Homo sapiens: one gene and its partners. The protein of the gene in region 3 purifies or fractionates together with the protein of the main gene of each other region. This does not show direct contact. Each region holds a gene or a part of one and is shown on either strand. Other genes may lie near its edges.

The links.
Region 1: the proteins of TGFBRAP1 (region 3) and GSR purify together in Homo sapiens (co-immunoprecipitation; one large-scale study listed by IntAct). This does not show direct contact.
Region 2: the proteins of TGFBRAP1 (region 3) and TIGAR purify together in Homo sapiens (co-immunoprecipitation; one large-scale study listed by IntAct). This does not show direct contact.
Region 4: the proteins of TGFBRAP1 (region 3) and CCDC85C purify together in Homo sapiens (co-immunoprecipitation; one large-scale study listed by IntAct). This does not show direct contact.
Region 5: the proteins of TGFBRAP1 (region 3) and HDHD5 purify together in Homo sapiens (co-immunoprecipitation; one large-scale study listed by IntAct). This does not show direct contact.
Region 6: the proteins of TGFBRAP1 (region 3) and AARS1 purify together in Homo sapiens (co-immunoprecipitation; one large-scale study listed by IntAct). This does not show direct contact.
Region 7: the proteins of TGFBRAP1 (region 3) and CAPG purify together in Homo sapiens (co-immunoprecipitation; one large-scale study listed by IntAct). This does not show direct contact.

The regions. Positions count from the first base shown.
Region 1 is NC_000008.11:30,696,847-30,700,346, reverse strand, and holds part of GSR (glutathione reductase, mitochondrial isoform 1 precursor), read left to right. Parts: intron 1-211; coding exon 212-266; intron 267-3,500. UniProt on the Homo sapiens protein: Catalyzes the reduction of glutathione disulfide (GSSG) to reduced glutathione (GSH). Constitutes the major mechanism to maintain a high GSH:GSSG ratio in the cytosol.
Region 2 is NC_000012.12:4,355,713-4,359,212, forward strand, and holds part of TIGAR (fructose-2,6-bisphosphatase TIGAR), read left to right. Parts: 3' UTR 1-3,500.
Region 3 is NC_000002.12:105,309,236-105,312,735, reverse strand, and holds part of TGFBRAP1 (transforming growth factor-beta receptor-associated protein 1), read left to right. Parts: intron 1-3,500. UniProt on the Homo sapiens protein: Plays a role in the TGF-beta/activin signaling pathway. It associates with inactive heteromeric TGF-beta and activin receptor complexes, mainly through the type II receptor, and is released upon activation of signaling.
Region 4 is NC_000014.9:99,597,708-99,601,207, reverse strand, and holds part of CCDC85C (coiled-coil domain-containing protein 85C), read left to right. Parts: intron 1-3,500. UniProt on the Homo sapiens protein: May play a role in cell-cell adhesion and epithelium development through its interaction with proteins of the beta-catenin family. May play an important role in cortical development, especially in the maintenance of radial glia.
Region 5 is NC_000022.11:17,137,020-17,139,648, reverse strand, and holds the end of HDHD5 (haloacid dehalogenase-like hydrolase domain-containing 5 isoform 2 precursor), read left to right. Parts: intron 1-910; coding exon 911-1,099; intron 1,100-1,291; coding exon 1,292-1,628; 3' UTR 1,629-2,129; downstream 2,130-2,629.
Region 6 is NC_000016.10:70,269,007-70,272,506, reverse strand, and holds part of AARS1 (alanine--tRNA ligase, cytoplasmic), read left to right. Parts: intron 1-534; coding exon 535-726; intron 727-2,166; coding exon 2,167-2,311; intron 2,312-2,743; coding exon 2,744-2,889; intron 2,890-3,500. UniProt on the Homo sapiens protein: Catalyzes the attachment of alanine to tRNA(Ala) in a two-step reaction: alanine is first activated by ATP to form Ala-AMP and then transferred to the acceptor end of tRNA(Ala). Also edits incorrectly charged tRNA(Ala) via its editing domain.
Region 7 is NC_000002.12:85,397,310-85,400,366, reverse strand, and holds part of CAPG (macrophage-capping protein), read left to right. Parts: intron 1-1,081; coding exon 1,082-1,231; intron 1,232-1,584; coding exon 1,585-1,677; intron 1,678-2,214; coding exon 2,215-2,347; intron 2,348-3,057. UniProt on the Homo sapiens protein: Calcium-sensitive protein which reversibly blocks the barbed ends of actin filaments but does not sever preformed actin filaments. May play an important role in macrophage function.

The DNA of each region.
Region 1 (3,500 bases), on a different chromosome or scaffold from region 3:
CCATCATGGCTTCTGTTTCTAGAGAGAAAATAAAAATGTTAACTCAGGGAGGATTTGGTTGGCAGCTTTCCAAGCAGAGACTTTAACAAAACTTGTCAAAACGGAGACTATGTTGGCTGTGAAAGTGTTTGGTTTTTGGCATAAAATGTTGTGATTACTTTGCAAGAGAAAGAGCAGTCTTGTGTGATCTATGTTGCCTTTTTCTACATAGGTGCCAGCTTAGGAATAACCAGCGATGGATTTTTTCAGCTGGAAGAATTGCCCGGGTAAGCCAACCTGACCTGACCTCAGTGACTCATTCTTCCTTACTGTCTCCTGGTAACTTTTCTTCGTCTTCTCCTCCCAAGCATTTAATGTAGGCCTTTCCTGAATTCCCTCCTCTTACAGCTTCTCTTTTCATGACCTTGTATATCTCATTCCTAGAACTCCTCAGTAGATCCCTCAAATCTTTCATGCTTTCAATCAGAGGCCAAAGTCAAATGCAGGGTAATTTGAAGACTGCATAGCAAAGTCCTAAAACTGTCTTCTTTCTTCAACTTAATACAGCATCAATTAAGAATGTGTCTAAAGTAGCTTGTATTTTAGAATAGAATAGCTGGTTTTGGCCAGATGTGGTGGCTCATGGCTGTAATCCTAGCACTTTGGGAGGCTGAAGCGGGCAGATCACCTGAGGTCAGGAGCTCGAGACCAGCCTGGCCAACATGGTGAAACCCTGTCTCTACTAAAACTATGGAAATTAGCTGGGTGTGGTGGTGTGGGCCTGTAGTCTCAGCTACTCGGGAAGCTGAGGCAGGAGAATCACTTGAATTCTCAAGGCGGAGTTGCAGTGAGACAAGATCACACCAAGAAAGAAAGAAAGAGAGAGAGAGTGCCACCACGCCCCGCTAATTTTGTATTTTTAGTAGAGGTGGGTTTTCTCCATGTTGGTCAGGCTGGTCTCAAACTCCTGACCTCAGGTGATCCGCCCGCCTCAGCCTCCCAAAGTGCTGGAATTACAGATGTGAGCCACCACACCTGGCCAGATTTTCTTTTAATGAACAAACATTTTTTTTTTTAGAGACAGGGTCTTCTTCCATCGCCCAGGCAGGAGTGCAGTGGTGCCATCATGGCTTGTGGTAGCCTTGAGCTCTTGGGCTCAAGCAATCCTTTCACCTCAGCCTCCCGAGTAGCTGGGACTACAAACGTGCACCACCATACCTGGTTAACTTTTTAATTTAAATTTTTGTAGAGATGGGGTCTCGTTCTGTTGTCCAGGCTGGTCTAGAATTCCTGGCCTCAAGCAATCCTCCCACCTTGGCCTCTCAAAGCAGTAGGAATACAAGCATGGGCCACCGTGCTGAATGGATTTAGATTCATAGAGGGGCAAAAAGATCATGAGGAAGTTTGTTTCTCTGATTTGAAGTTGCTGTACATTGCAGGCTTTCTAGTTTAGAGGGATGCTCCTGTCACTTGTGAGAAGAGGTGATGCCTGGAAACAGGTGGAGGGACCCAATGTGTTGGCGCAGGGACTGGCCTTCATTCATCTTCTGAGTGGCACTCACTGTGGAGTTTGCATTGCTCAACTCTTCTGCTCCCTCAGGGGCTGTGCTAATCCAGTTTGAGGTCCTAATCCTATGCTTTTAGAAGGGCTTTTAGGGAGAGTGACTCATAGTCCATGAGCCTATCTTCACTTTGATTCACCCAGAGTCATGGACAGTTCAGACAGCACGAGGCAGTTCAGAAAGGACCAGGGAGCTGCTTTGCAGTTCCATAGGATGGTGAAAATGTCCCTTGAAGATACCTCAGACCAGGCAGGCTTCTGACTTGGAGGAGTTCTAAGAAAACCATACAATCTTTTTTGGTTTGCTATCAGGTCGCAGAAATGTGTTAGAGAACAGCCTTCCTTCCCTGTGATCCACCCTGCATTGTTTGATTTTAGGGTTGAGTGACATGACATATGTGAGGATGTAGTGAGACATACAGTCATGACTCATTATGTTTGGATAATGTAATTTCATTCCGGACTCACCCTCAAAGAAGTTTCATTATAAATAGCTGTTCATTAGCAATTTTAAATATTTACATTTATGCATGTCATCAACAAAAGGCTCTGAAACACAAGAAAATGAATTTACGATTGATACGTGATTCTTCAAGTCTACTTTATCTTTGTTACGGTGTTGGTGAATAAGTAATAACTGGGCAAGTACATAAATAATGTAGGGAAGATAGCATGATTTAGTTTTTGCACTGAGGGGGCTTCTGTTTGGATGGAGCATGAACCTTGTGGAATACTGTGCATGAGTAGTCCTGGGGCTGCAACGAGGTAAAGAGAAATCTTTTAGGGATTCAGCCGCCTGAAAGATCAGTTCCAGAAGCCAGGCACAGTGGCTTATGCCTGTAATCTCAGCACTTTGGGAGGCCTGAGGCGAGCGAATTTCTTGAGCCCAGGAGTTTGAAACCAGCCTAGGCAACACAGCACAACCCGATCTCTGCAAAAAAAATACAAAAATTAGCTGGGTGTGTTGGCACATGCTGGTAGTCTTGGCTACTTGGGAGGCTCAGGCCGGAGGATCACTTGAGCCTAGGAGTTCGAGACCAGCCTGGGCAACATAGGGAGATATTGTCTCTGCACAGAGTTTTTTCCTCTCTGAAGAAATGAGGCTAAAGAGCTTTAAAAACAATGAAAAATACATTTCCCTTCTGTGACGGGATATTAGGGATTTTTCTTTTCTTTTGAGATAGGGTCTTTTGCTCTGTCACCCAGGCTGGACTGCAGTGGTATAGTCATAGCTCACTGCAGCCTCCACCTCCCAGACACAAGTTATCCTCCTGCCTCAGCCTCTCAAGTAACTGGGACCACAGACATGGACCATCATACTTGGATAATTTTTATTTTTACTTTTAGGGGTTTTTTGTTTGTTTGTTTGTTTGTTTGTTTGTTTTGTTTTTTTGAGACAGAGTCTCGCTCTGTTTCCCAGGCTGGAGTGCATTGGTGCAATCTTGGCTTACTGCATCCTCTGCCTCCTAAGGGCAAGCGATTCTCCTGCCTCAGCCTCCCGAGTAGCTGGGATTACAGGCACACACCACTGCACCTGGCTAACTTTTTGTATTTTTAGTAGAGACGGGGTTCACCATGTTGGCCAGATTGGTCTCGAACTCCTGACCAGGTGATCCACCCACCTCAGCCTCCCAAAGTGCTAGGATTATGGGCATGAGCCACCGTGCCTGGCCTTACTTTTATGTTTTTGTAGAGATGGGGTCTCACTTTATTGCCCAGGCTCAAAGGAATATTTTCTACTTAAAGTTGCAGTGGTATCCAGGATTGGATCTTGGAACAGAAAAAAAAAAAGATTAATAGAAAAACTGGGCTAGGCAAGGTAGCTTACACCTGTAATGCCGGCACTTTGGGAGGCCAAGGTAAGAGCATTGCTTGAGCCCAGGAGCTAAGACTAGCCTGGGCTAACATGGTGAGACTCTGTCTCTACAAAAGAAAATATAAAACTTAGCTGGGTGTGGCG
Region 2 (3,500 bases), on a different chromosome or scaffold from region 3:
GTCAGAGAAGACAGTGTGTTGGCTCACATTGTGGTCAGTGCTGTTGAGCAAAATAGGTCAGAGTAAGGGGGATGGAGACTGGTGGGAGGAATGCTGCTTTATCCAGGATGGGCAGGGAGGACTCGATGGTGTCAGCACTGAAGGATGTAAGATCTGCTGCTCTGGGGAGAGGAGCAGCATGGAAGGAGTAGAGTGCAGAGGCCATGAGGAAGGATCAGGCTTGACTCCTTTGAGCAAGGGGGATGGGAGAGTGACGGGAGAAGAGGACAGGCCACATGGCCTGGTGGCCTGTGCTGAGGCCTTGGGCTTTTACTCAAGTGAGATGAGATGCCATTGGCCAGTTTGGGCAGTGATGTGATCAGACTTGTTTCAGCAGGACCATCCTGCTTGCAATGTGGAGAGCAGGCTGTAGGGGGTGCTATAGGAGCACAAGGTTGGAGGCAGGGAAGATGGCAGCACTGGCTGTTGGGCCATTTGAAGAAGCAAGGCCAGGGATGTTGGCAGGGACCAGGCCAGAGTGCCTCCAATGGCTAACTAAGGAGCCTGGACATTGAATTTCTAGGTTAGCTTAGGATTTCTCATCCTCCCATCTGTGAATGTCATAGATCTCTCATTTTGCCTGAGTCTTTTATGCAATGATATTTTATTTGTAATATTTTCCCGGTTTTTGATTGTTTTTTAACAAATGAATTTTTTAAGAGACTTAATTTTTTAAGAGAAACTTTAATTTCCCAGCAAAAGTGAGAGGAAGGTAGAGAGATTTCCCATCTATCCCCTGCCCCTACACACGCATTGCTTCTCCTACTATCAACATCCCCCACCAGACCAGTGCATCTGTTACCATCGGTGAGCCCACATTACACTGACATATCCACATCACCTGAAACCCATAGTTTACATTAGGGTTCATTCTTGGTGTTGCATGATCTGTGGGTTTGGACAAACGTATGAAGACATGTATTCCACCATTATAGTATCATGCAGAGTATTTTCACTGCCCTAAAAGTCCTCTGTGTTCCCTGTACTCATCTTTCCCACCTTGTCTTGCCTGTTTCTGTTAGGTTTAGTCCGAGGCCTAGCAGAGGGAATGGGCAGAAGTTTCCAGTTCCAGGCTTCACCCCAGGCTCGCAGCTTCAAGCAGAGCCTGTCGCTTAGGCTCCCTTGCACCTGGAGTCGAAACCATGGCTCCCATTCACCTGTCTCTTATTTTCCTGTCCTTCCCACTCCTCACTCACCTACTATTCATTTCCATTTTTGGATGAGGATTCTCCTTTATTGCTTTTTAACTAAAAACCTGTTTTAGTTAGCATCTTTATTCTAATTTCTTTAAATGCTATGTCATACTCAGCAAGGACATGCTCATATTAGGGGAAGCACATAAAGTAAGATATCCCTGAGAGAACAGTGCATCTCACACCCATTCCATGGCTTAGGCTTATGCAGGAAGTGCAATATTTGGCCATATCACTTAAGTACATATGCTTATATTATGTATACTTGCATGCATATTACATTTACAAGTAGATGAATTCGTGTAAGTTAAATGGTTCTATTATATGTCTTCACTATATTAAGGTCAGTCACAATTTAATTGAAATAGATCATCCTAGGTGAATCCACCTGGCATAATTATCAGCCCTGTTAAGCACAGACACAGGAGATGCAAAGGAAAGAAGTATTCAGTAGAGCGGTGGTGCTGGGCTGAGTACCTGCTATCAGACGCAGCACTTACCAGTTTGGAAATTGAATGGGGCTCCTAGAAAACATCCTTGTTTCATGTAAATGTTGCTTTTTACCCCTCTTTCTTTGGGCCCCATCAATTTGGAAGTACAGCTTTCAGATTGAAGTATGTGTCAGTTCCTTTGTGTCCAAACAAGATGGCTAAGTAGGTCGTCATGACAGGTAACTACCAGTGCTTTAAAAACTTTAGGATTTCCCCCCACAGTTCTCAATCACTTGGTTCATTGTTCAGCAATATGGCCTAAGGGGGTGATTTCTTCATTGATAAGTGACAGGGCAGGGACACTGGAAAGATCTATTGTCAGAAGGCCTGGATTCAGGTTCAAGGCCTGGTTCTTAGTAATTTTGTGACCAAGCAATCGCTGAGGTGGCTGGGCGTGGTGGCTCGCACCTGTAATCCCAGCACTTTGGGAGGCCAAGGCGGGCAGATCACGAGGTCAGGAGATAGAGACCATCCTGGCTAACACAGTGAAACCTCGTCTCCACTGAAAAATAGAAAAAATTAGCCAGGCCTGGTGGCCGGCGCCTGTAGTCCCAGCTACTTGGGAGGCTGAGGCAGTAGAATGGCGTGAACCCGGGAGGTGGAGCTTGCAGTGAGCCAAGGTCGCGCCACTGCACTGCAGCCTGGGTGACAGAGCAAGACTGGGTCTCAAAAAAAAAAAAAAAAAATCATTTGATAAATAATGGGCTGTGCATGGTGACTCAGGCCTGTAATCCCAGCACTTTGGGAGGCCAAGGTGGGTGGATTACCTGAGGTCAGGAGTTCAAGACCAGCCTGGCCAACATGGTGAAACCCTGTCTTTACTAAAAATACAAAAATTAGCTGGGCGTCTCCAAAAAAAAAAAAAAAGAAAAAGAAAAATCACTGAGCTACTGTATCCTCATAGAGAATAATTACAGTAATGTGTATGTGCGTGTGTTTTGGTAATCTTTTATCTTGGATTTATCAAACCTACAGAAAAGTTGCAAGAACAGTAGAAGGAATGGCTGTATACTCTTCACACTTATTCACCACTTGCTTACCTGTTGTCCCACTTGCTTTGCCATTTTTTCTCTCTCCCTCTGTTTTCCCCTGAAACATTGGAGAGTAACTTTGAGTCCTCATACTCTTCCCCTATAAAATTTCAATGTGTGTTTCCTGAGATCAACAATGTTCTTATATATAACCCAGAATAAATATCTGAGTCAGGAAATTTGACATTGATATTGCCTATTAGCTAATCCTTAGACCAAATTTAAATTCTGTCAATTATTTTGTTGATGTACCTGTGGCTTTTTTTTTTTTTCTGAATCAAGAATCCAATCAATCCAGGACTGTGTGTTGTGTTGCATTTAGTTGTCATGTTTCTTCATGTCCTTCCGTCTACTCCTTTGCCTTCCTTTGCCCTTCTTTTTTTCTCCCACCATCTATCTAACCAGATGAACTTTGTCTTTCTTGATCTTGTTACTTTTTAAAAAATAGGTGAGTTCTTGTGGTTTTTTTTCCTGACATATCCTCATTATTAGATTTGGATTGTATACTTTTGTCAGAAGCAGCCCAGAAAGGATGTGTCCTTGGTCATGTCAGGAGGGACAGGACGTTGTATCAATATGTCTGGTTCCTCATTAAATTTGCAACTACTCTTTTAGCCTTTATTGTTTATTTTCTGACTCTGTTTTTTTTTTCTTTAGCCAACTCACGCCATGACTCTACTTTTGCTTCTATGTTTATTAGTTGGCATTCTGTACTAAGACAGCTTTACCCTTCTTGCCTACTTATT
Region 3 (3,500 bases):
AGCATCTTTAAAGATGCTGACTAAGATTCTGACTATCACCAGTGGCAGAATCTTTAAAATGACAATGTGCATATTCTTAACCTGGTAGGAAATAATTACTAATATTTTTATTTTGACCCTTAGCATGTATTGCTTTATACTATTACTGATTTATTTTTCTAGTCCTATTTCCTTAATAGGACGGGGAGACTCTTAGGAAGTGGGATTGTGTCTTGTAATTGTTTAGTTTTTTGCAAACTTAGAGGTGCTTGCTGCATATGCAAGGTTAGCTTAATTAAATTATGGTCCTTGAGCATCCTAGCATTTTCCAATCTCTTCCCTACCTGGGTATGTATTTTGAAATTTTAAGAAAACATTAAAATGTTGATCTTTTAAATTATTATAATCATACTTTTAAAGTGAATTTTTTAAATTTAATATTCTTATTTTTTTTAAAAATAGAGACCAAGTCTCAATATTTTGCCCAGGCTGGTCTTGAACTCTTGGGCACAAGTGATCTTCCTGCCTGGGCCTCTCAAAGTGTTAGGATTATAGGTAAGCCTTAAAGTGAAGTTCTAACAAAAAGTTTAAATTTTCGATCATTTTGAGATCACACAGTAAAGTATGAATTTTACACCTTAGAGAAACGTTTCCTTTTGAAACATTACCATGTTGAAACTTCTCTGATTCAGAACCCCAGCAAGTTATATTTAATAGAGGTGTGGCCTAAAGTTTATCTTTTTATGATTCATATTTTATCTAAGTAAATATATCATGTGAATTAGATCATGGAGAGAATTTTCCCACTGCTTAAAAAAAATAGTTTTTTAAATTAATTTTTTTTTTTTGAGATGGAGTTTTGCTCCTGTCACCCAGGCTGGAGTGCAGTGGTACGATCTCGGCTCACTGCACCCTCTGCCTCCCAGTTCAAGCGATTCTCCTGCCTCAGCCTCCTGAATAGCTGGAATTACAGGTGCCCGCCACCATGCCTGGCTAACTTTTTTTTGTGTGTGTATTTTTAGTAGAGACGGGGTTTTGCCATGTTGGGCAGGCTGGTCTTGAACTCCTGACCTCAGGTGATCCGCCTGCCTCAGCCTCCCAAAATGGTGGGATTACAGGTGTGAGCCACCACTCCTAGCCAATTTTTTTTTCTTTTTTCTTTTTTTTTCTGTGTGAAAGCATCTCACACTGTTTCCCAGGCTGGAGAGCGGTGGTGCAATCATGGCTCACTGAAGCCGCAAACCACTGGGCTCAAGCAACCCTCCTACCTCAGCCTCCTGAGGAGGAGGGAATACAGGTGTGCCCCACCAGGTCTGGCTAAGTTTTTATATTTTTTTTGTAGAGACAGGGTTAAGGATAAGTCATTTTTAAGTGCTAGCATGTTACTTCTTCAGCTTTCATTTACCTCCATGTAATTCTGCATTATTACCATTTAATTACCAAAGCAAGTCCTTAATTTAAAGGCCTATAATAGGAAGCTTATCTTTAGCAAGGCTTGAATAACAGTTTACTAGATAATGAAACAATATTGCATTTGTTTTTAAATATTATAGAGTTATGACTTTTTAGTAAACCATATGTTTTTTTGTTTTTTGTTTTTTTTTTTTTTTTACAGCTCTCTCTCCCTCTCCCCTTCTCTATCTACCCCAGGATTTAGACTAAATATGAGGCGTTTGATTCTTTCTATAATATTCTTTACTGCAAATGTGTTTAGTTTATCCCTTATGCTAACTGAAGACAGGGGCTGGAATTATGAATATTATACTTTTAAGAAGCTAAATAAAAGGAGTTTGATTGTAGGTGCCCAGAGTTTGTTTCTCTATTCCTTCCGCAAAGGGAGACACAATTTATATTTTAAATGGCAGAACTGCTTACTCCTGCCATTTAAAAAAGACAACCCTGATTGATTAATCAATGAAGGAAGAAGTATTTTGTATTACTTCACTTTCACTAACTTAGATGTCTGGAAGCTGACATTTCAATATCTGGGTTTTACTCATTAGCTCTTAAATGGAGAAAAAAATGTTGTCTAGGTGGGTTTTGGTGGTTATGTTTGGTTGGGACAAATACATGATGTTGTTTAAGAGCTGTTTGTGCCAGAGACTATTTGTAGAAGCCTGCAAGAGTTCTGCACTCGGCCTCACCTGGGATTCTGGGGATGTTCCCACAGCCCCGAGGTAGATGGACATGATTCCTTCTCTGTGGTGCCTTTAGAACCTCCCTCTACACTTCCCCCAGCTCTTTTCCATAGTTTCTGTGAAGATGAGCTCCCGTAGGTGAGTGTGAAGATGTCTTAGGGGTGGGGCAGGTGTGTGAGTGTGTGTTCTGGCTTATGATGCAGGCTGTGTTTTGGCGGAGGTGAACAGGTTACCCATATCTGAGGACAGAAGACAGCATAGTCTAATCTCTTGGTGCCCAGCTTGGGAAATAAACACCTGAAGCAAGCTGGTAGTTTGAGAGAGGAGTGAGAGCTGATCCAGACTGGGAGGGAATCATAGTATTTATGATGAGATCCAAAAGTTTGAGTGCTGTGTGCCAGCTGTCCGCATTTTATATGAGGTCACTTACTTAATCGTCCAACAATCCTATGAAGTAGGTACCGTTATTCTCATTTCACAGATGAGGCAGTTGAGGCTGGAATAGCCAAGTGTCCATTCCAGCTGCTGTAACAAACTACCATACACTAGGTAATTAATAGATAATAGAAATGTATTGCTTACCGTTCATGGAGGCTGGGAAGTCCAAGATTAAGGCATGGTAGGCTCAGTGTTTGGTGAGGGCCCATCCCTCAGGGGTGGTGCCTTGCAGCTGCCTCCTCACATAGTGGATGGAAGGAACAAATAAGCTCTCTGGGGCCTCTTTAATAAGGGCACTAATGCCATTCATAAGGGCTCCACCCTCATGACCTAATCACCTCCCCACCTCCCAACACTACCACTCTGGGGATTAAGTTCCAACATATGAATTTTAGGGGGACACAGACATTCTGACCATAGCACCAAGTAATTTGCTCAAGTGATGGGAAGAAAACAGGAAGGACTGATGTGTCTACAGACAAGCCTCCTCCTCAACCCTGGGGTATCCTCCCTCCTGGGGGTTTTGTAGAGCTAAGGAAGGGGGCTGGAGTCTCACTTGTGTGTAGCTGTCATTGCCCCCATGGATGGGGGCAGACACAAAATTGTAGAATTCCAAATTTTCTATTTGAAAGGCACCAAAGAAGTTCTCTGATTCCTTCCCTTCCCTGATGCGTGAACCTTTCTTGAATATTTCTGAGAGGTCTTCCCTGCTTTGCTGGAATGCCTCCAAGTATTAGGAACTTAAGCTCTCATGAAGCAGCACTGTTCCATGTTCAGACAACTTGAGATGAGGAAGTGACAGTGATAGCAGCCTTTCACTTCAAGCTCTCTGAACATGCAGCAGTGCTGACGCAAGCCCAGCCAGCTGCCCTGCAGCTCCCGTCATTCTCTGCAGTCCTCTTTCCAGCTCTCTGATCCCCTGCCCTGCTCCCGCTCACAGGGACT
Region 4 (3,500 bases), on a different chromosome or scaffold from region 3:
AAATTCAGCATTATTATTACAAATTTCGGTTACAGATGGAATTATTATTATTTAGTTTTGTCTCTTAAAGCCATGTGTGGCCTTGGGATGTGGTCCCACTAATGTAAATGGAAGGCTTGGAAACCAGGAAAGGCCCTTCTCTTAGAAACTGAGCTGTTCTTTCTTTCTTTTTTCCCTTTTTTCGAGACAGGGTGTCACTCTGTCACCCAGGCTAGAGTGCAATGGAACACTCATGGCTCACTACAGCCTCAACCTCCCAGGCTTAAGTGATCCTCCCAGCTCAGCCTCCCAAGTAGCTGTGATTAGAGCCATGAGCCACCTCACCTGGTGAAACTGGGCTTTTCTATTCTGGGACTTGTAACTTTAAATTGAGCAAAGATTGGGCCTGAGCTGAGGGAGATAATGAGTCTCTGTCTGGGTGGTGTCTAAAGTGGGGTCAGACACCAGGCTTGCGCCTTATGTGTTTGGTCTTTGCTTCTTCTCACAGGAACCCTGGGGAAGCAGTATTATCCCCATTTGACAGACAAGCAAGTGGAGGCTTAGAGGGGTTCCTAGCCTTGTCTGGGAAGGTGGCTGACATTGGAAGTACCTGTCCTGGGTGGGTTTGCTGCCATGATCATCTCGTGTTCAGGCCTTGGGTCTGAATCTGTTGTGCCCTTGGTCTGTTGTCATGTTTGCTGTTACTGTTAATCAGGGGACACTGGTGACTCCCTATTCTTGATTCCTGACCCAGGTTTGCCCTCTTTCTCCCATGCTGGGAAGTGTCACTTCCTTATCAGTGACCATTGAGCAGATGGCTGATAACCCCGTTACCCAGAGGCTCAGGGTGACTTGAGTTTGAATCTCAGCTCCTCCATGTATACTGGGCAAGTTATTAACTGGCCAAGCCTCTCTGTGCTCCTCTTCTGTAAGATGGACAGAACCCAGAGTGCCCCATTATTCACACAAGGTTGAGTGAGGTCAGGATCTACACACAGTAGGTTTCTCCTGTTGTTAGGGTCCTTGGGGCTCTCCCAACAGACCTCAGTTTCCTCTTCAAAAGTGCTTGCTGCTTAGACAGCTCACCTGAATGTTTGCATCTGAGCCTCTTGTGTGGCAGCACTTGCTGATGAGCTAGTGAGGACAGTGGCCCTGCTGTCCTTTCTGGGGAGCTGGTGGCAGTTGCAGCCCTGCTGGGTGCCCTGGGCAGACTCTAGTGGCTGAGGTGGGAGGTGGCCCATCTGTATGCAAGGCAGCCCTGGCTGAGGCTGGCCTGGTGGGCCTGTGTATTGTGTATGTACATGCAAATAGGCTTTTCTCCTTGGCTGCTTATTTATTTATTTATTATTTATTTAGAGACAGGGTCTCTCTGGTCACCCAGGCTAGAGTGCAATGGCACCATCATGGCTCGCGGCAACCTCAACCTCCTGGGCTCAAGTAATCCTCTTGCCTCGGCCTCCTGGGATGTGTGCTACCATGCCCAGATAATTTTTGAATTTTTTGTAGAGACTGGATCTCACTATGTTGCCCAGGCTGGTCTCGAACACCTGGGTTCAAGCAGTCCTCCTGCCTTGGCCTCCCAAAGTGTTGGGATTACAGACGTGAGCCACTGCACCTGGCCTTGGCTGCCTTTGGTAGAGGTCTGGTCTGGGCTGACTGGACTTGGGACTGGGCTGTGCGTTGCTCTAGTCCAGTGTGGCACACTGAGACAGGTAAACCCCAACACCAGAAAGTCAGGTTCTCCTTCATGAACTGATAGGATTTTCAAACAAAAGAATTTTCAGTTCTTTTTCCAGCTGCCCCTCCGCCTGTCTCCTGTGCCCCACGACAGGCACCATGCCCCCCTCCTGCCCATTGCCAGGCATTTCCTTCCCTCCCCTGATAACCTGCTCCTCCACGGTCCACTCCCCTTTAGCCAACCTGGAGGAACTAGGATTCTAGCAAGCCTGTGCATGAGCCCCATTTACTTTTTAAAGTTCGGATTAAAATTTTGAGCTTCTCAAAATGAGACAGGTTTGTTCTCCTGCTTGTGTTTTTGTTGGTTTAAGAGGGAGGATGGAACGGGGTGGTCTGGGCCTTTAGAAAAAGACAGAGCACGCTAACTCTGAATAGGTCTTTTCTGTGCAGCAGCTCGGCTAATAAGGCTGCTTTTCCTAAACCCAGCCAAGCTCAGGAACAAAGGTCAGTGAAGACAATGGGGTGGGTTAGATAAGCCTTTCCCCCTCCTTCCCCAGCCTGTCCCAAGGGATCCATCAATGGCCTTGGGATGCTGGGCCTCAGAAAGGAGGGCTGGCCTTGAGAGGCTCCCAGGCAGGTGACCCAGGGGTGGGTAAACTGTGCCCAGTGCTTCACAGTTTGCCACAAACAGCATCCCAGTCCCAATTCCATTCTGTTCAGAGCTTCCAAATGGTCCCAGGAGGGAGACCTTAGCATCTCCATATCTTAGATGGGGAAATCAGGGCTTGGAGTGGTGGTGCGGTGACTTGCTCTAGGTCCTGTGGGGCTGATTGGGGGGCCTGGGATGCGTCTTGGGTCTCCTGTGTCAGAATTCTGAGCCCATGGCCCTGTGCCTGCTGCCCAGAGAGTTCCAGGGGAGCGGTGACCTCTGCCACAGAGACAGGGCACCTCCTCCCAGGATGCCAGGCCCGGGGCCTCATTCCTGTCTCCCTGTGTCCTGGCATGGAGGAGTGGGGGAAGGCGGTGCAGGGTGGGCCACCTTCCCTACGATGGCTGTGGCTCCCCATCTCTTGGTTTCTCCTTCCCTCACTTCTCTGCACGAGGCTGGCTTGCCACCGCAGCAGTCGCCCCACCAGACCTCTTGCTCAGGCCTGGCCTCTGAGTTCCCAGGACCAGCACGTGATACAGAAGGAAATCAGTGGTTGCTCCTAATCTGTTTTCCGCCGGTGGGGATTTTCCAATCCATGCTTGTTGCCTTCATTTGCGCAGAGAATTGGAAGTCTGTTAAGCAAGTTCCTGAGCCTCCATGGGCCTCTGTTTTCTCTTTTGCCAAGTGGGAAAATGTTACTAACCTTTGGGTTGAGGGAGGAGGGTGTGTAGTGAGTGATACGTGTAGCCTCTGGCGGGTGGCAGCCCCTGATGTGCGAAGGCCCCATCTCCCGCTGCAGCGCTCGGCACCCCGCATGCCGAGGGGCATGTAGCCCTCTGGTTAGTGATCTGCCTCCAGGGTCAGAGAGCCCTGGGTGAATCTTGGCTTTGCCACCTGCTTTATGGCCGTGGCAGCTTACTGAACCTCTAAGCCTCAGTTTCTTCATCTATATCCTGAGGCTAATAATGTCTCGATCCTAGAACTGGGCCTTAAAGGATGGGTTCCATGTCCTTTCATTATTTCCTGGCCTCTGCGGATTTGCCTTCCCTGGGTGGGAGTGGGAGATCCCCTGACACACGCTGGTACCCAGTGTAGGGTCGGAGGCAGCTGAGTCCTCATCTAGTTGAATGGAGGGAGCCAGCATTCCAGGCAGGAATAAGAATGGCTAAGGTTTGGAAGTGGGGTCTGGAGCATG
Region 5 (2,629 bases), on a different chromosome or scaffold from region 3:
TGAGCTGAGATTGTACCCAAGCGCCAGCCATCATATCAGCATTCCAGGTGTCAAGAAGGAGTTGGGGAGGGCAGAGAGGGCAGAGAAGAATACCGTCCCCAGTTTGTTTGTTTTTTTTTTTTAGATGGAGTCTTGCTCTTTTGCCCAGGCTGGAATGCAGTGGTGCAATCTTGGCCCGCTGCAACCTCCGCCTCCCGGGTTCAAGTGATTCTCCTGCCTCAGCCCCCCAAGTAGCTGGGACTACAGGCATGTGCCACCACACCCAGCTAATTTTTGCATTTTTGGTAGAGACAGGCTTTCACCATGTTGGCCAGACTGGTCTTGAACTCCTGACCTCAGGTGATCCACCTGCCTTGGCCTCCCAAAGTGCTAAGATTACAGGCATGAGCCACTGCGCCTGGCCGCCTGTCCCCAATTTTAAGGATGCTTATTGAAAATTTAGCCCAGCATTTCTGCTTTCCTTGACTGTAGCTTAGTCACATGGCCACGCCTCGCTGGCAGGGAGGCAAGCGAAGGTCTTTTTCACACCTAGTGGCAATATGGTCAGCTGAAAATGGACACCAGCAAAGAAGGGGAGAAGCGCAACCGTAGTCTGCCTCAGCTCTACAGCAGGATTTAAGCTCTGGAGTCAGACTGAGTTGTAATCCTAGCTCTGCCCTCTTGAACAAGTTACTTAATCTTGCTGTGCCTTGGTTTCCTCGTTTTACAAATAGCGTCATCTCATAGAGTTTTTCTGAGAGGGAAATGTGAAATGCTGCCTCCAGTGCCTGCACAGTGTCTGCTACATGTCAGCTCTTACCCTGGGGAAAAGGCTGGTCTGTGTGTTTGCTGCTTAGACAGTGGCAGTCGTGTTCTCTAGAAGAGCCTGGAGATCAGGAAGACTGAACTGCTGCGTGCTCGTTTCTGGCAGGTTTGGACATGGCACCTTTCTGCTGTGCCTGGAAACCATTTACCAGAAAGTGACGGGCAAGGAGCTGAGATACGAGGGCCTGATGGGCAAACCCAGCATCCTCACTTACCAGTATGCCGAGGACCTGATCAGGCGACAGGCGGAGAGGCGGGGCTGGGCCGCCCCCATCCGGAAGCTCTATGCTGTGGGGTAGGCTCTGCTCTCCCTCCTTTGTCCCTTTTATGACATCCCCTTCTCTCCCTCCTCCTCTACTCTCACCCCCATTTCCCTATATCTAATTCACTCTTCTGCCCCGAAACTCTTCTCTGCTCCCTTTGCTTTGCAACATTGATTTAGGGTTTTTTCTCCTTTTTCCTTTTCCGGTGTGGCTGCCCCTGCCAGTGATAACCCTATGTCTGACGTATACGGCGCCAACCTGTTCCACCAGTACCTGCAGAAGGCAACGCATGATGGGGCGCCAGAACTAGGGGCCGGGGGCACACGGCAGCAACAGCCCTCAGCAAGCCAGAGCTGCATCTCCATCCTGGTGTGTACAGGCGTCTACAATCCCAGGAACCCACAGTCCACGGAGCCTGTCCTTGGAGGAGGGGAGCCTCCATTCCACGGGCACCGAGACTTATGCTTCAGTCCAGGGCTCATGGAGGCCTCCCACGTGGTGAATGACGTGAATGAGGCTGTGCAGCTGGTCTTCCGCAAGGAGGGCTGGGCTTTGGAGTGAGGGCAGTGCGGTGGAGGTGAGGGGGTGAGCCTGGACCTGTGGGCGAGTCCCATTGGCTGGGCTCTGGCCTGATCACTGGGCTCAGGTCAGGGCTTGGTTCCCTTGCCACCCTTCTTGCTGCCCCATGAGTGTGGCATTACTGGTCACTTGGAAGAAGACAGTGACTCTTTTTCCCTGCTGGGTAGCATTTTGTATGGAACGGTTGGAATTTTCTGGGCCCAGTTCCCACGTGCCTTTCGTGGCAGTCTAACCTCAGGCCATTCTCTTCCCCTGTGTGCCTCAGTGTCCTTCTCATTTCAGTAGGGACTTCTGAAATGGGGGAGGCAGTGTGGAATACTGTGGATGTCTGTGCAGAGCCTTTGCCGGCACTGAAGGCATGCAGCCTGTCGGCAGAGTGTCTTAACACCAGATGCTACTTTTTACTGTATTGTAGTTTATTGCCCGGAGATGTGGGGCTTTTTTTTTAAATAAAATAATCATAATAAATGTTCATGATGCTGACTCTTGTGAAGCTCTGTCTGGAGTGCACTAAAAGTCCTGTGGGGAAAGGAGGAGTGAGTGGTGTGGGCGGCCCAGGGTCTGGGAGATGGGTGGCATTTCAGCTCCACGAGGTGCCCACATCTCCTTTCCTACCTCCCGCCCCCAAGTCCACACCCATTCTGGGCTGTGAAGCCTGAGGCTGTCTATGAATGAGTATGCCTGGCTTTGGCATATACTTAGCAACTTCCCTGGTGTGGAAAAGAAGAGGGATCTTGTTACTGGTTTGTTCTAAAGGAAGCAGCTCTTCCTGCAGTGATTCTAGAAAACATGCCGCTTCTTGCATCCCTTCCTCTAGGAGTAACCAACTTCATTTCTTCATTTGTCTGTGTCACCCATGGCCTCAGCATCTGCAAATCCCCCAGTCAGTTCTCGTCCTCATTTTACTCCAGTAGCTGTTTGTGTTTGACATAGCTGATGCCTCCCTCCCTTGTTCTTTTTTTATTTTTTAGAGACGGAGTCTT
Region 6 (3,500 bases), on a different chromosome or scaffold from region 3:
GAGATGGAGTTTTGCTCTCGTTGCCCAGGCTGGAGTGCAATGGCGCGATCCCGGCTCATCGCAGCCTCTGCCTCCTGGGTTCTAGTGATTCTCCTGCCTCAGCCTCCCGAGTAGCTGGGATTACAGGCATGCGCCACCACACCCAGCTAATTTTTTGTATTTTTAGTAGAGACAAGGTTTCTCCATGTTGATGAGGCTGGTCTCAAACTCCCAACCTCAGGTGATCCGCCCGCCTCGGCCTCCCAAAATGCTGGGATTACAGGCATGAGCCACCACGCCCAGCTTCTTTAGCAGGTTTAATGTGCAGGCTTAGCATTAGTACTTGCTGAAGGTTGGAACTTCTTCATTAAAAATTCTAAGAATTTTTTTTTTTTCTTTTTTGAGACAGAGTCTCGCTCTGTTGTCTAGGCTGGAGTGCAGTAACATGAGCCACTGTGCCCGGCCAATCCTAAGAATTTCTTTTGCGGTGGTTGCAAGTCTGGGCAGAACTCTTGTCAGGGGCTGTAACTGGACTTATCTTTACTCCTTTGTCAGGCTGGATGACACCAAAATCCTCCCAGGCAACATGAAGGATAACTTCTGGGAGATGGGTGACACGGGCCCCTGTGGTCCTTGCAGTGAGATCCACTACGACCGGATTGGTGGTCGGGACGCCGCACATCTTGTCAACCAGGACGACCCTAATGTGCTGGAGATCTGGAACCTTGTGTTCATCCAGTATAACAGGTAGCCTTGGGTTCCTACTCCATTCCTTTCCTTGAGCTGAGCAGGGGAGGAGGAACTCGGAGCTGTGTAGCTCTCTTCTCAGCTAAAAGCTCATTTCTTTATTTCTCAGATTACCTGTCTGATCTCTGGAACAAGGATGGGCCTATTCTTTCATGAACTAAACCTTATCGCACATAATAGCTTCTTGCGAGCTATTCCTATAATGTCATGCTTGCTGTACTTCGGGCTGCTGTTTTTTTTTTTTGTTTTTTTGAGACAGAGTTTTCCTCTTGTTACCCAGGCTGGAGTGCAATGGTGTGATCTTGGCTTACTGCAACATCTGTGCCCTGGGTTCAAGCGATTCTCCTGCCTCAGCCTTCCGAGTAGCTGGGATTACAGGCATGTGCCACCACGCCCGGCTAATTTTGTATTTTTAGTGGAGACGGGGTTTCTCCATGTTGGTCAGGCTGGTCTCGAACTCCCAACCTCAGGTGATCCGCCCGCCTCAGCCTCCCAAAGTGCTGGGATTATAGGTGTGAGCCACCGTGCCAGAACTGGACTGCTGTTTTAAAGCCTATTTCCTTGAAGCTTGCCTCAGTTTTGTTTTTGTTTTTGTTTTTGTTTTTGGAGATGGAGTCTTGCTCTGTCACCCAGGCTGGAGTGCAGTGGCAAGATCTCAGCCCACTGCAACCTTTGCCTGCTGGGTTCAAGCGATTCTCCTGCCTCAGCCTGCTGAGTTCTCCTGCCTCAGCCTCCTGAGTAGCTAGGGTTACAGGTGCATGCCACCATGCCAGGCTAATTTTTAAAATATTTTTGGCAGGGATGGGGTTTCATCATGTTGGCCAGGCTGGTCTCGAACTCCTGACCTCAAGTGATTCCCCCGCCTCGGCCTCCCAAAATGCTGGTATTACAGGCGTGAGCCACCATGCCCAGTCTTTTTCTTTTCTTTTTTTTTTTTTTTTTTGAGATGGAGTTTTGCTCTTGTTGCCCAGGCTGTAGTGCAATGGTGAAATCTCAGCTCACCACAACCTCCGCCTCCTGGGTTCAAGCGATTCTCCTGCTTCAGCCTCCCGAGTAGCTGGGATTACAGGCATGTGCCACCATGCTCGGCTAATTTTGTATTTTTAGTAGAGATGGGGTTTCTTCATGTTGAGCAGGCTGGTCTCGAGCTCCTGACCTCAGATGGTCCACCACCTCGGCCTCCCAAAGTGCTGGGATTACAGGCATGAGCCACTGCGCCTGGCCTTTCCTCACTCTTAAATGAACCCCAGAGTTCATTTAAGAATGAACTCTTCCTTTCTCCTTCCTTTCTCCCTCCACTTCCCTCTTCCCACCAAACCGGGCAAATGGCAGATGGTCACAGCCTGCAAACTGTTCTGTAAATGAATTTTAACCAGCAGGGACTGGAGAGGTGGCAGCTTGAGTCTCTGCTTCAACCTCCTCTTCTTCTGGATCATACAGGGAAGCTGATGGCATTCTGAAACCTCTTCCCAAGAAAAGCATTGACACAGGGATGGGCCTGGAACGACTGGTATCTGTGCTGCAGAATAAGATGTCCAACTATGACACTGACCTTTTTGTCCCTTACTTTGAAGCCATTCAGAAGGTACTGGTGCTATTGCAAACATTGTAAACTTCTGTGGAGTTTTCCAGGCTGTACTCTTAACAGTGCTGTCAAAGAAAAAATGACCATATGCTTTGCCAGCCAAGGGTACCCATTTCCATCTGCCTACTTCATTGTTAATAATGTGAGGCTCCACAAATTGGTGTTCTAAATGTCTTAAGAACCTAATTAAATAGCTGACTACAAAAAAAAAATAATAATGTGAGGCTCTAGACCTGAGACAGTATAATTTTTGAGTGTAGGGGCTGGCTGGAGTCTCTCTACTTCCCCAATGTCACGTTCTTGGGGTTATAGGATCTGGCAAGACCGGCATCCTTTCTGCTAATGCTCCTCAATCCTCCAGGAACCTCCTTGGGCAAGGTAGCGCCAGAAAGTCTGCTTCCTAAAGGGCTGCCTCCTGATTCTTATCTATAGGGCACAGGTGCCCGACCATACACTGGGAAAGTTGGTGCTGAGGATGCCGATGGGATTGACATGGCCTACCGGGTGCTGGCTGACCACGCTCGGACCATCACTGTGGCACTGGCTGATGGTGGCCGGCCTGACAACACAGGGCGTGGGTAAGTATGCTGCACACTGGGTGGTGTTTGGAGCGGCACCACGTGTGCTATGTGTGACTCTTTATGAAACTTTTCTTTGTGTGTGAGATTGAGTGTTGCTCTGTTGCCCAGGCTGGAGTACAATGGCGTGATCTTGCCTCACTGCAACCTCTGCCTGCTGGGTTCAAGTGATTCTGCCTCAGCCTCCCACGTAGCTGGGATTATAGGTGCACACCACCACGCCTGGCTAATTTTTGTACTTTTAGTAGAGACGGTTGTTTTTTTTTTTTTTTTTTTTTTTTTTTTTTTTTTTTTTCTGAGACAGAATTTTGCTTTTGTTGCCCGGGCTAGAGTGCAATGGCCCGATCTTGGCTCACCGCAACCTCCACCTCCTGAGTTCAAGCAATTCTTTTCCCTCAGCCTCCCGAATAGATGGGATTACAGGCATGAGCCACCATGCCTAGTTTTGTATTTTTAGTAAAGATGGGGTTCCTTCCATGTTGGTCAGGCTGGTCTCAAACTCCCAACCTCAGGTGATCCGCCCGCCTCGGCCTCCCACAGTGCTGGGATTACAGGCGTGAGCCACCGTGCCCGGCCAGAGGTGGGGTTTTGCCATGTTGGCCAGGCTGGTC
Region 7 (3,057 bases), about 20 Mb from region 3:
AAGGGGACAGGTGAACAGACCTCGCCATTACCAGAAAAGGAGAGGTGACAGGGGCTCTGCCTGGCAGGGCGGTGGGTAGAAGTGTGAGATGCTGCGCTCAAGGAGCCATTCAGCCATTCACCCATCCAGTCCTTCACTCAGTCAGTCAATATTTATTTTGCGCCTAAATCCATGCCGGGCTCTGTTTTAGCAGTGGGCCCACAGTGGTGAGCAAAGCCAAACAAAACCTTCATGTCCTAATGAAGCTCACTTTCTAGTAGGTGGAGATAGGTGGTTAAGAGACGTTTAAACATAGGAGATATGTGATGGGAAGAAAAATAAAGAGGTGCTGGGCGTGGCTGCTCACGCCTGTAATCCCAGCACTTTGGGAGGCCGAGGTGGGCAGATCACCTGAGGTCGGGAGTTCGAGACCAGCCTGACCAACATGGAGAAACCCCATCTCTACTAAAAATATAAAATTAGCCGGGCCTGGTGGCACATGCCTGTAATCCCAGCTACTCGGCAGGCTGATGCAGGAGGATCTCTTGAACCCAGGAGGTGGAGGTTGCGGTGAGCTGAGATTGTACCATTGCACTCCAGCCTGGGCAACAAGAGCGAAACTCCATCTCAAAAAAAAAAAAAAAAAAGAAAAAGAAAGAGGCTTGAGCCCAGCGGTTTGTAACCAGCCTGGGCAACATAGTGGGACCCCATTTCTACAAAAAATTAAGAAATTAGCCAGGCATGGTGGCAAGTGCTTATAGTCTCAGCTGCTTAGAAGCTAAGGTGCAACGATTGCTTGAGCCCATGACGTCAAGGCTGCAGTGAGCCATGATCACGTCTTTGCACTCCAGCCTGGATGACAGAGTGAGACCCTGTCTCGAAAAAAAGAAAGGAAGACAGATGGCAGGTGGGCAGAGAAACAGTTGCAGTGGGTGGTCGTGGGCATTTTCAGAGAGCCCTCTGTGCTGTGCTCTGCCTTCCTGGTTGTCCTGCCTCAGGGACAGTTCAGAGAGGAGAGAGGGAGAGCTGTGCGCCCTTCTCTGAGCTGGGGAGCAGGACACAGGCATCTGGCTCTGACCCGGACTTTCCTGCTTCCTTGCAGAACATCTTCGCCTGGTGTGGTGGAAAGTCCAACATCCTGGAACGCAACAAGGCGAGGGACCTGGCCCTGGCCATCCGGGACAGTGAGCGACAGGGCAAGGCCCAGGTGGAGATTGTCACTGATGGGGAGGAGCCTGCTGAGATGATCCAGGTTGGGGGACATTGGAGTGGGTGGCTGGGAGCCTCTGCTTGAAAGTGGCCAAGAGAGGTGGTGATGAGCTGAGGGCTGAGAGTGGCCGGTGGAGGGTGGCAGGGGCCATCTGGTGTACTGCCTAGGGCTGTGGCCAGCTCACAGGGTGCCCCTCTGGGTAGATGCTCGTCCTCGAGGCTGAGCAGCCTGGCTGGTGGGGTGGGCTGGACTCAGCCCTCACTCACCTCACCTCTGCTGGGTGCCCTAGTGCAGGGCGCAGTTTGCCCCACCAGAAGCAGTGGCCCTGGGCATGATGGGCTGGGAAGTTCCAGGGCAGGGGTCCCTATAAACCTGGCCTGCCCTGGCCCCTGCAGGTCCTGGGCCCCAAGCCTGCTCTGAAGGAGGGCAACCCTGAGGAAGACCTCACAGCTGACAAGGCAAATGCCCAGGCCGCAGCTCTGTATAAGGTGGGCCCCCCAAGCCTGCCCTGGGACCCGGCAGCAGGGAGGGTGGGAGCCTGCACAGCACAGCTGCATGCAAGCAGGGTGGAGGGGAGAAGGCAGGGGGAAGGTGGGGCTGGAACCGAGGTGGGAGGTGGGGAGTTATACAGGGCTGGGAGTGAGACAAGGATGGGGAGTGGGCGGAAGGCAGGCCCTCCTGAGGAGATGAGTGCACCTCACTTCCAGCCTATGCTTGGTGAAGGCTTGAAGCCAATGCTGAGCTTTTCTTTCTTGAATTCTGTGCATTTCTTTGTAATTTGGAATCCACCTAATTTCCAAATGGGTTCGGGGCCCCTGTGCTGCAGGGATTGGGGTGATGAGAGGGAGTGGGGCTGCCTGGAATTTGCTTTTCAGGTCTTCACTCTCTTGTCTGCTCCTGGGACCTGGGCAGTGGGCAGCGAGGCACAGTGGGAGGGACCTAGGGAGGACCAGCCTCCCCCTCCTCAGGCTGAGGTGAGGGCTGGTGTGTGGGGGGTGAGATCAGGCACTGTCCCTCCTCCCCAGGTCTCTGATGCCACTGGACAGATGAACCTGACCAAGGTGGCTGACTCCAGCCCATTTGCCCTTGAACTGCTGATATCTGATGACTGCTTTGTGCTGGACAACGGGCTCTGTGGCAAGATCTATATCTGGAAGGGTACGTGGCTCCTCTGTAACAGCCTGAGATGCCTGTAGCTGCTCTGACCCGGGCAGGCTTCCCTTTGCAGGACTCAGCCTGTCTAGCTGCTTGTAAAAGACAGCCTCAGGAAGCCTGCATGCTTCTGGCTGACCATTTTCTCTCTTTAAAAATTTTTTTTAAAAGATAGAGATGGGTTCTTTCTATGTTGCCCAGGATGGTATCAAACTCTCAGCCTCCAGTGATCTTCACCTTGGCCTCCCAAAGTGCTGGGATTACAGGCGTGAGCCATGGCATAGGCCTTGCTATTTTCTTTCTTTCTTTCTTTCTTTCTTTTTGAGAAGGAATCTTGCTCTGTTACCCAGGCTGGAGTGCAGTGGCACGATCTTGGCTCACTGCAACCTCTGCCTCCTGGGTTCAAGCAATTCTCCTGCCTTAGCCTCCCGAGTAGCTGGGAGTACAGGTGCGTGCCACCACACCTGGCTAATTTTTGTATTTTTAGTAGAGATGGGGTTTCACTACCAGGCTGGTCTCGAACTTCTGACCTCAAGTGATGCACCGGCCTCGGCCTCCCAAAGTGCTGGGATTACAGATGTGAGCCACTGCCTCGCCATTTTCTCTTTGCTGTTCCCACCTCCTAAATTCTAGACAATGGCTCTGAAACTACAGCAAGCCTCAGAATCACCCCACGGCCTGTTTAGATGGCTGGGCTCCACCCCCATAGATTCTGA